2 separate regions of the Homo sapiens genome follow, and region 2 is linked to region 1. Evidence: fine-mapped expression QTL. A gene starts in region 1. The other region holds a variant in brackets. All regions are shown on one strand. Distances are between the middles of the regions. Region 1 holds the start of UBLCP1 (ubiquitin like domain containing CTD phosphatase 1). Region 2 has its middle 27 kb from the start of IL12B.

What was found. PIP is the estimated chance that this variant, and not a neighbour inherited with it, causes the effect. A credible set is the group of variants that fine-mapping cannot tell apart.
Region 2: its variant is the best candidate, but not a certain one, in a credible set for the expression of UBLCP1 in whole blood (INTERVAL, PIP 0.80).

Annotation. Positions count from the first base shown.
Region 1 is chr5:159,260,927-159,266,310 of GRCh38, reverse strand. UBLCP1 (ubiquitin like domain containing CTD phosphatase 1) reads right to left here and starts at 3,021. Exons shown (of 11, transcript NM_145049.5): 1 at 2,951-3,021. RefSeq lists enhancers at 2,781-3,288, 3,045-3,354, 3,385-3,454, 3,289-3,796.
Region 2 is chr5:159,300,675-159,306,058 of GRCh38, reverse strand. No RefSeq gene overlaps it. Among named protein-coding and RNA genes, the nearest start is that of IL12B, 27 kb to the left of the region's middle. RefSeq lists an enhancer at 2,968-4,167. The variant T/C (reference allele first, on the strand shown) is at 2,699.

The sequences.
Region 1 (5,384 bases):
GTACCTTTGCTAATACATAACAAGAGTCACTTTTACTCCAGTTCCCAACAAGTTCCTCATTTCCATCTGAGACCACCTCAGCCTGGACCTTATGGTTCATATAGCTATCAGAATTTTGGGCAAAGCCATTCAACAAGTCTCTAGGAAGTTCCAAACTTTCCCACATTTTCCTGTCTTCTTCTGAGCCCTCCAAACTGTTCCAACCTCTGCCTGTTACCCAGTTCCAAAGTTGCTTCCACGTTTTCGGGTATCTTTTCAGCAATGCCCCACTCTACTAGTACCAATTTACCGTATTAGTCTGTTTTCATGCTGCTAAGACATACCCAAGGCTGGCCACAGTGGCTCATGCCTGTAATCCCAGAACTTTGGGAGGCTGAGGCAGGTGAATCACCTTAGGTCAGGAGTTCAAGACCAGCCTGGCCAATGTGGTGAAACCCCATCTCTACTAAAAATACAAAAAAAAATTAGCCAGAGGTGGTGGTGGGCGCCTGTAATCCCAGCTACTTACAGTTCCACAATGGCTAGGGAGGCCTCAGAATCATGGCAGAAGGTAAAAAGCACTTCTTACATGGCAGTGGCAAGAGAGAATGAGGAAGACAGAAAAGCGGAAACCCCTGATAAATCCATCAGATCTCATGAGACTTATTCACTTATTCACAAGAATAGCACGGGAAAAATCGGCCCCCATGATTCAATTACCTCCCACTGGGTCCCTCCCACAATAAGTGGGAATTCTGGGAGATACAATTCAAGTTGAGATTTTGGTAGGGACACAGCCAAACCATATCAATCAGAAAATACAAAACCCATGGGTACAGATCTAAGCACACAAAGATTATATAGTGGCTGCCACTCATGTAAATAACCAAACATATGTCTCTTCCTGCATAAAGCTTTCTATTTTTCATTAAACTCATTCCTCCCACAGTCCAGAGAACTGGATTTTCTAATCTCAAGGTATTGGTATTTCCAATGCTTTCACTTATTTGATGAAACATTTGATTGCACTCTTCATGCAACTATTAGGACCAACTGCAAGAAAGAGGTTAAATTTTTAATCTCCACTTCCAAAAATAATTTAAAAACAGTGTCTCCTACTAAAAGGCCAATTAGAAGAGAGAGCCATAAATTCATATTTATATTTACTCATATATGAATACAAATATGAACTATAAATGTATATTTACTCCTATGTTTACAATGTGTTCTACTGAAAATGTAAAGCAAGTGTCTTAATTTAGGGTAACGTATTCCATTTTAGACAGAACTATAACAAATGTTATATTCTTCAATTAAAAGTGGACCTTTTGAGTTAAACTGAAATACAGTTTAAATATTTTCTGTAAGACATAAGAATAAAAGGGAATCCTACGAGAGCTAGAAAGGCAACCAGCACTAATATCGCATATATTGTGATGCGTAGTAGTGCAGAGTTTGGAGTGAAATCATCTGAGTTCCAGGTGACCCTGGACAAGTGATTGCTCTTCTAGACTAGTGGTTTTCAAAGCATGGTCCCTGGGCTAACGAACAGCATTGACCTCACTTGGTAATTTGGTAGAAATGTAATTGGGGTGGAGAGAAGGGACCTAGGAATCTGTGTTTTAACAAGGTCAGTCCTCCTCACCTCTGATGAATGCTCAAATTTGAGAGTCAGTACTACAGGCTCTTCAATGTTTTCAGCCTTAAAAAAAATGTGCCAGAGGGCATGGGCTCTATATGGTTAATAAAGCAGCATAAAAACGTTACGAAGCACCTATCCCACAAGTGGAAATTCCAAGTTGGCAAATGCCTTAAAGGGCCAAGCGAAACAAACACCATAAAAATTGTAAATGCATATGTCTTTAAGATTTGTTTAAAAGTTACTGAACCTTATTTCATCATTAAGACCGTTCACACCAATGAAGCAGTGTGATATAAATGCATGAGCTATTTTGCTTTCACATTTAACCTTCTTTCTTAGTATTTTGTATCATTTCAGATCCCATCAGATTTATAAGCTGAAAAATGATTTGGGGTGTGGGGAGGAGTGAAGTTGGCAAACCCAAACAAGCAAGCAAAGAATACACTTCCATATGGTCAACCTAGGGTCAAGAATAGCTGTTTAGGTTGGAGTTCTACCTAACATACTGTGTTGACTTTGCCTAGTCAATCCACCTCTTGGCCTCAGTCTTCTCAACAAGATGAGGCTACTAATATTCACTGGACAGGAGTAGTGTTAAGGTATGAAGTAACACCTGTGACAGCACTTTGTAAACTGTAAAACACAATACAAATGGTGTTCATGATGGAATAAAAACATGCTAAACAATTATCTCATTGAAGCTTCACAATCCTGAACCAACAGCTGTTGTCCTCATTATACAAATGAGAATCCTGAAAAGAAATTAAACTTGCCCGGGACCACAAACCTAAAAAGTGGCAAATGAAGAAATTTTAAAGTATAGCAGTAAAAGTAACACTTTGGGAATTAACGGGAGGTTAACTTTCAACAATCCCAGCAAAAGATAACCGTGAAGCACTAAGAACTCCGGCGAGAACCGCACACCAGCAACAACTGCGAGGTGGTGCAGGGTCGGGGGCTGTGCTAACTGACTTAGGGGAGCATTAGGAGGCAGGTGGAGGCTCCAGAACCAAAAAGGCCGGGATGCCTTCAACAAGGAGGTTGAGGGGAGGGATGGACAAGCCTGAGAAGACGGAGGAATGAAGTTTGGGGACGCAAAACCCACTGGGAAACAGAAAGCCCTCCAAATAGGCTAGACTGCTGGATGGGAGGACAGCGGCCCCCGCGACTAAGCGGGCCGGGGCTAGGGGCCTGGGCGTCAGACTAGGACAGACACTATCCCCAGCCCGCCGCAGTGCAAGCCACGCCGCGCGGGCCGCAAAGCCACTGTCCCCGAGCCCCAACAGCGTCTCCAAGGGCAGCGCGCCAGGGTGCCCCGCAACCCCTCACCTGGAGCGCGGTGGAACCTGCGGCAGCGGACGCAGAAACCGGCCGCTGAGAGACCGAAAGCGACCGGAAGTGAAGGGCGGGACCGGAACCGGCTGAAAAACCGGAAGTGGGTGGTTTGAAACGGAAATATGTTGGGGACGGAACAACTGCTTCCTTTGAATCTCTTCGGGTGCTAATCAAATGGCCGCTGTAAGGGATCTCCACAAAGCCACGAAGAAGCCAGGCCTTTCCGAGACTGTAACCGCTGTGCAGATAGCGCCGATCCCTGGGTGGCCGCTCTCTCGTTCTGCGCGTGCGCTCGTTCTGGGCTGGGAGCGGATGGGTGCTGAGGCGTGTGACGTCTCTAGTAGTGTCGTAACTGGGTGTGCTGCCTTTTCCAGGTGTACTGAGGTCTTCGTGAGATTCAGGGCTAGGACTCGTGTGGCTGTGTCATGTTCCGAATGAAGCTTAAAAGGTGATCTTTGAGAACTGAAGACTTGAGACCCCTCCATGGGCCCAGGGGCTGCCAACACTAATAATTTCAGAGACTTAGAATCTGAGGAGAATCTCCAATCTAAGGGGAAACGGAAGAGGGTCAGGAAAGAGAAGGGGCAAGCTTAAGTGACTCAGAATCCAAGAAGCAAGTCTCATAGGAGAGCTGCGATCGAGGTTACCATACAGTATCCAATCGTCTCAACCTTCCCATCCATACTTCCATGCTGTCTTTCCTCTGAATGCAAGGAAAACCGGTTACACAAACGCTGACAAAAGAATGTCAGACTTGAATGGAAATTCGGAGCAGTACCCATCTGGTCCATACAGCGAACTCCCAGTGAGCACCACGGCAATGTAACTAATTCATGTTTCCCTCTTGGCAGTGCGGGAAAGGCAGCAAAGAGCCAAGTTTTGTATCTTAACAGTTCTTTAGTTAAGAGGCACACGCTATTTTGCATTCTTCCCTACTTTTGATAATTTTTGGCTGCACTAGTAATGCATGAGTATCTGCTCATTTAAAAAACTCAAACTTTTTCAGTGAAAAGTATGCCCTTTTCTTCAGAAAGTCTTAATTAAAAAAAAAAAAAAAATCATTGCCCAGACCAACATTTTCAAGCATTTTCTCAAATCGTTTTCTTGGAATAGCTGCATAGTTTTGGGTCTTACATTGAAGTTTGGTGCTCATATGTGGGAGCTAAAAAAAAGTTGACTCCATGGAGATAGAGAGTAAAATTGTGGTTACCAGAGGCTGGGAAGGATAAGGAGGGAGAAGGAGATGAAGAGAAGTTAAAAGGAGCGAAAATATGGTTAGACAGAAGGAATAAGTTGTAGCGTTCCACAGCACAGTAGGGTGACTATAGTAATCAATAATTTATTTTGTATTTCAAAATAGAGGAGAAAGGTTGGGATAGTCTCAACACAAATGATAAATGTTGGCCGGGCACAGTGTGGCTCACACCTGTAATCCCAGCACTTTGGGAGGCCAAGACAGGCAGATGACTAGAGGTCAGGAGTTCAAGACCAGCCTGGCCAACATGGTGAAACCCAGTCTTTACTAAAAATAAAAAAAATTAGCTAGGTGTGGTGGCATGTGCCTTTAACCCTAGCTACTCGGGAGGCTGAGGCATGAGAATCACTTGAGCCTGGGAGGTGGAGGTTGTAGTGAGCCAAGATCATGCCACTGCACTCCATCCTGGGTGATAGAGCAAGACTATCTCAAAAAAAAAAAAAAAAAAAAAGAAAAGAAGAACTTTTGCCTCCTGTTGCTCCCTGGAGCCTCTCTTCTAATGTGTGGAGGATAATATACTTGTCCTTCATTCATGCATCTCTGTAGCAGCTAAAGATGCCTGGGAATTCCTCCATAGATTGTCAGGTCTGAGAGTCTAAATAATATATGGAAACAATTTCACAACATCAGATGACAAACTGTTAATATTACTGTGACCACATTTACTTTGGAAGATAAAAGGACATTCCTGCACCTAGGCCAGAAATCCCCCACTACTCTGCTTTTATCTCCATCTCCCCCAGACTTTTTTCTCCCCTTTTCTCTCTCTGGCCATTTTCTTTCTCTAGCAAGTGTGTTCTCTTGCCCAGCTCAGATCTACTCCCCTCAAAAAGCTTTCCCTCTCTTCCCAGTTGGAAGACAATCCTCTTCAAAAATTTAGTTCCCTCTAGAAGTTTGTCTCTCTCTTCTAATACCTACTCCTTTGCCTTTATCTTGCCTGCAGTAAGAGAGCTGAAAATATTTAGAATCTGCCCCACATGACAGAATACAGGTTCTTAATGAAGCATGCCCAGTTACTGCCCTTCTCTATTCAGCATGCTTTCCCCAAACTACTACTTAAAAACTCCATTCTCTTCAAACCTCAGAACTTCCAATATACTCCTTTGCTCTAGGCAGATGACATTGTCCCATATTTTGGCAATTCTTCAAACCTCTGAATCTACAAACTAAGGT
Region 2 (5,384 bases), 40 kb before region 1:
GGTGGAGATAGGAAGGCCTTTTGGAGGATCTGAGAAGGAAAGGTCTCCCTACCCAAAAAGTCCAGAAAGGGAAAACATTTTCCAATCAGCCATGATTCTGAAACTGACATCTGCCCTCTCTCCACTGTTTAATTAATCTAAACTTGATCTGAGGCTGACTCCATACCTTGAGTCCCTATGTAATGAACTGCATGCAACCTAACTTGGTATGAACTGACTGAAAGCTAATTTAATATATTTTTGTAGCTAATAGCTGAGCCTCAGCAGTAAAACACAGCAGCAAACCTCCAATCAATTATAGGTTACCAACTGATCAGACCATGCTCAAATAAAGCAAACACCTAGCTGTAACCAACCAAGCTGTCTCTGTACCTCACTTCCATTTTCTGTTCATTTGCTGTCAGCCCATATCGGGGAGCAGAGTTCTCTCAACTTCTGCTGGTTCTGAGAGCTGCCCTATTGACAAGTCATTCTTCGCTCAATTAAATTTGGTTAAATTTAACTTATCTAAAGATTTACTTTCAACACTGCACATATACTGTTAGAGACAAGCAGCCTCTCTCTACAAGCGTTGGAATAAATGACTTTCTTATGGTGACTCTGGAGTTTGCAAATGCATTGGTGTGCCTTGGCTTGCAAGCCCTGGCTCGTTAGCACTGATATGCTGCTGTCATAGGAAGCCCAAGGTGTGGCCGACTACGACTTTCCTGTGTAGTCTAGGGTTGCCATTTGTGCTTAATCCAATCCATATCTACTCTCTACAAGCCCTCAGTGTCCCAGATCCTTGTCCACAAACCTGGAGGACCAAGCTGGGGATGGCTGTCCAAGCATGGATCAAGCTGCTTTGCAGACTGCTTTGCAGGGTAATGTTTTGGAACAAACTGTACAGACTTAGTCATGCAAAATGTTATTGTATTGAAGAGGTCAGAATTCAGAGCACACTTGGCTAATCCAGCAACTGAATTTTACTACTACTGACTCTGATGAACAGAAAACAACTCTGCCACCTGTACACAGGCAGTCAACTCTTTCTACCAGAAGAGGAATGGACAGTAAGAGAAGGCAGAACAGGGGGAAGAAATCAAATGGATTTAACTAGATCATCACATAAAAACTGCAAATGTCCTATCATTTTTCAGAAAGATTCAATGTCTGCTTTCAAAGGATTTTACTATATGTATCTTCTTTACACAAGTACATTTTAAAATTTAAGTCCGAGTGATTTCAATTCTGTAAATTTTGAAATTTCACTGAGTAAGAAAAATACTGACTACTGACCCTCAAGAGGCAAGTCTACACAAATAGGCAAATTTGTAAGTTTACTGTTGGGGCTCTGAAAATGATACCCCAAAGTTTGGGGCTTTCATGCAGAGTGCTTTGAACTAAGGGAGAACCAAAAAGCCTCCCTGAACTTCTGCCCTGCTGTCTCTCACCCCTGTTTCAAAAGCACAGGGAAGGGTGGTCTCTGAACTTGCCTCGTCTGCCTAAAGATAGATCTTCCAAAAAGGCACTCAATTGCCATGAGTTTCCTCCCCAGGAATCTCATTAATTAGGAAAAATTAACTGTATCACAGGAGGAGAACAGACTGAAGGTAATTGCCAAGCCCAGACATTATCACAAACTATCACCTGTTCTGAGGGGTGCTCCAAGACAACCTTTATTACTCTGGAGACTGTTTATCTGCATAACAAGACAACTTTTATTCACCATGCATTTCCTCTCCTTTCCCTCCCATAATTTGTGTCATGCCCCACCCCCAAATTAAGCTCCAAGCCCCAATTCCTTTCTGTAGCTCAGGATGCTATATAAACTTTAATCATCTAGCCCTTCTTTGAGTCTCATCTTTTGTGAGATTCCCATGCCTATGCACATAATTAAAATTGTTTTTTCCTGTTAATCTATCTACTGTCTATTTACTTCCCAGACTCAATGATCAAACCTTAAGAGGGTAGAGAGAAAGGTTTTCTCCCTTACATTACATTCCACCTAAGATCCACAAAAAGAGAAAATTTCACTTTTAGGTAATGAAAAAGTTACCCAAAATATAAAAACCCTCATATTTGACTTTACTCTTCTAACTCCGCAAACTGAAGCCACCACTAGCTACTACAATTTGACCACCAAGGTATACATTTTTCTAACAGCTGTAATGAGGTATAGTTCACATACTCTACAAGTGACTCTTTTAAGGTGTCTAATTCAACAGGTTTTATACACTTACAGAGTTGTGCTCCCATCACCACAATAAATTCTGGAATATTTTCAATACCCCAAAAAGAAACACAGCACCCCTTCACCATCAACACCTGATATGGTTTGCATATTTGTCCCTCCAAATCTCATGTTGAAATTTGATCCCCAATGTTGGAAGTGGGACCTGATGAGAGCTGTTTGGGTCATGGGAGTGGAACCCTCATGAATGGCTTGAGCCATCCTCTTGGTGATGAGTGAGTTCTTGCTCTATTAGTTTACGTGACAGCTAATTGTTTAAAGGAGCCTGGGGCCTCTCCCCTCTCTCTCACTTCCTCTCTTGCCATATGATATGCCAGCTCCCTCTTTGCATTCCACCATAACTGTAAGCTCCCTGAGGCCTCACCAGAAGCAGAGCGGATGCTGACACCGTGCTTCCTGAACAGCCGCAGAACTGTGAGCTAAATAAACCTCTCTTCTTTACAAACTACTCAGCCTTAGGTATTC[T/C]TTTATAGTAATGCAAAACAGACTAACACAAATCCCAATCCCAGTATCCCTCCTTCTCTGCATGTTCCTAGGCAACCACAATCTACTTTCTGTCTCTGTGGGTTTGTCTATTCTGGACATTTTATATAAATTGAATTATATAATATGTGGTCCTTTGTGACTTTCTTCTTTTACTTAGCATAATATTTTCAAGGTTCATACATGTTGCAGCATGTATCAGTACTTCATTCCTTTTGTTCCTGAGCAATATTTGATTGCATTGATATGCCACATTTTATTTACCCGTTTATCAATTGATGGACATTTGGGTTGTTTCCAGTTTTTTACTATTATGGCTAATGCTGCTATGAATATTCATGTACCTAAGTGTAATTTTAAATTTAAGTAATTCTTGCCTAAGGCTTAGGATACATCCCCCCCAGAAAATGAGAATAAAGCAAAGTTTTGCAAAGCAGCAAAGCAGAACTTTACTGTATCAGTGATTGCCACTCTTAAGTCACCTTTTCCCATGGAAGATAGTCCTTAACAGCCTGATTTAGGAACATCAAAAGAGGTCCGTCTAAAAATGTTGTGTTAAGCAGATTCAAACATGTTTTGTTTTGTTTTGTTTTGTTTTGTTTTGTTTTGTTTTGTTTTGTTTGAGACCGAGTTTCACTCTTGTTGCCCAGGCTGGAATGCAATGGCGTGATCTCGGCTCACTGCAACCTCCACCTCCAGGGTTCAAGTGATTCTCCTGCCTCATGTTGAATACAGTGAGTTCTAAATTTCTCTTCAAAGAATCAGTATGTCAGTATGTTCAGTTCTTTGTTCTCCATTTTAAAGTTTAACTTCCTCATTCTCCTCGCCCATAGTTTCAGTAAACAACTTTTTCCACCAGTTCTAATCAGCAGTTCACATCTGTTCCCCTGGTCACCTGCTCTGTCCTGAGTCACCCCTGGTCATCTGTTCCATCTGAGTCATCCCTGGTCACCTGCTCTGACCTGAATCATCCTGAGTTCTCTTTTCTGTAACTGCCCTTCCCACCAAACTACTCACCCCGCCACTCCGACTTGTTCTCCTTCTCTCTTTAAAATAGCCAATCAGAATTATCTTAGACTGTGTGGTCCAACCCTAGCCAATAAGGGAACGACATAGCAGTAGGGGCTACCTGTGTCAGGAATAAAAAGCCCTTCCCCTCCCTTGTTCAGGTGTGCTCTCACCATTGCTCCATCCACGAGTCACACTTTTCTATAGAAGTAAAATTGCCTTGCTGAGAAAATTAAATTTATGTTTGAGTGCTATTTCTTTTGTGGCGCCAAAAGTTTATTTATAACACTCAGCTTCCCAAGTAGCTGGAATTACAGGCATGCACCACTGTGCCCAGCTAATTTTGTATTTTTAGTAGAGATAAGGTTTCATCGTGTTGGTCACGCTGGTCTCGAACTCCTGACCTCAAGTGATCCGCCTGCCTTGACCTCCCAAAGTGCTGGAATTACAGACATGAGCCACTACACCCAGCCTCAAACACACATATTTATTGCATGTCTAATGTAGCAGAGAAAAAATAATTTTTTTTCTACTTTTCATGATTTTTAGCTGATACAACTAAAATTCCTATAACAAAAGACAGATTAACCACAGAAAAACAAACATGTATGTCTCATTTATACCACGGGAGATACACAGGGAAAATGAGTAATTCTCTAAGAGGTGGTTTGAATTCCATCTACCGAAACAAAAAAAAGGGAGCGGGGTGGGGAAGGTCCAGCTTTGCCAAGATGGCCAGGCAAAACACCATAAAACAGCATTAGGTTTGTTATGCAGATTTAAGTCAGTGTCTTCTCCATTGGTAGGCATGTATAATGATGTACAGTCATCCTTCTCTTCCTGGTGCAGAGAGGAAAACACCCTTAAATTGGAGATTTCCTTTGTAAATGCAAATTTTCCTTACAAAAGTGTAATTTCTACTCTTGTTTTCAGAGCTTCTCCTAGGTCTGCTGTTTCTTAAAATAATTAGATCAACATAATCCTTATGCTAAAGGAGCATATTTTGGGGTGATATATTCTAGTCCAGTACACTCATATATTGGGGTGATGTGTCTTGAACCTCATCACTAATAAATAAAAAGTGCTATTTGTAGTTGGTAAATAATTGTAAAATATTTTTTAAAAATTTTCTATATATTTTTTGTACCTCTTGGTCTTCCTCTGCATCCCTACCCCCATTCAGTCATTCATTGCCTCAAGGAATAGATAACTCAAAGAATAGCAGAGAACAAAGGCTTTTGGATTTGTTATTGAACTGAACTTGGGTCTGCTCACTTGGCACAGCAAAGCCAAATGCTGACATCAAGATTTGCTGTGAGATAAACAGCTGTAGGTAAACAGCAGCAACAAAAACAAAATAAATTATTCATTAATTATAAAAAAAGATGTTCAATGAGAGAAAGAAAAGGATTTATTGTAGGATACCAAGCAAGGAGAATTGGTCAGATAATGCTTAAGGCCCAAACTCCCCATGGCTTATCAGCAAGAGATTTTAAGGGCAGGGGTACATTTCTGGAAAGCAGAAGTTATAGGCAAAATTGTAAATCAATACATGGAGGTTATACATTGGTTTGGCTCAAAAAGGCAGGAGGATATGTTGAAGCCAGGGCTTATAGGTCATAAATAGATTCAGTGATTCTTTGATTTGCAATTGGTTAAG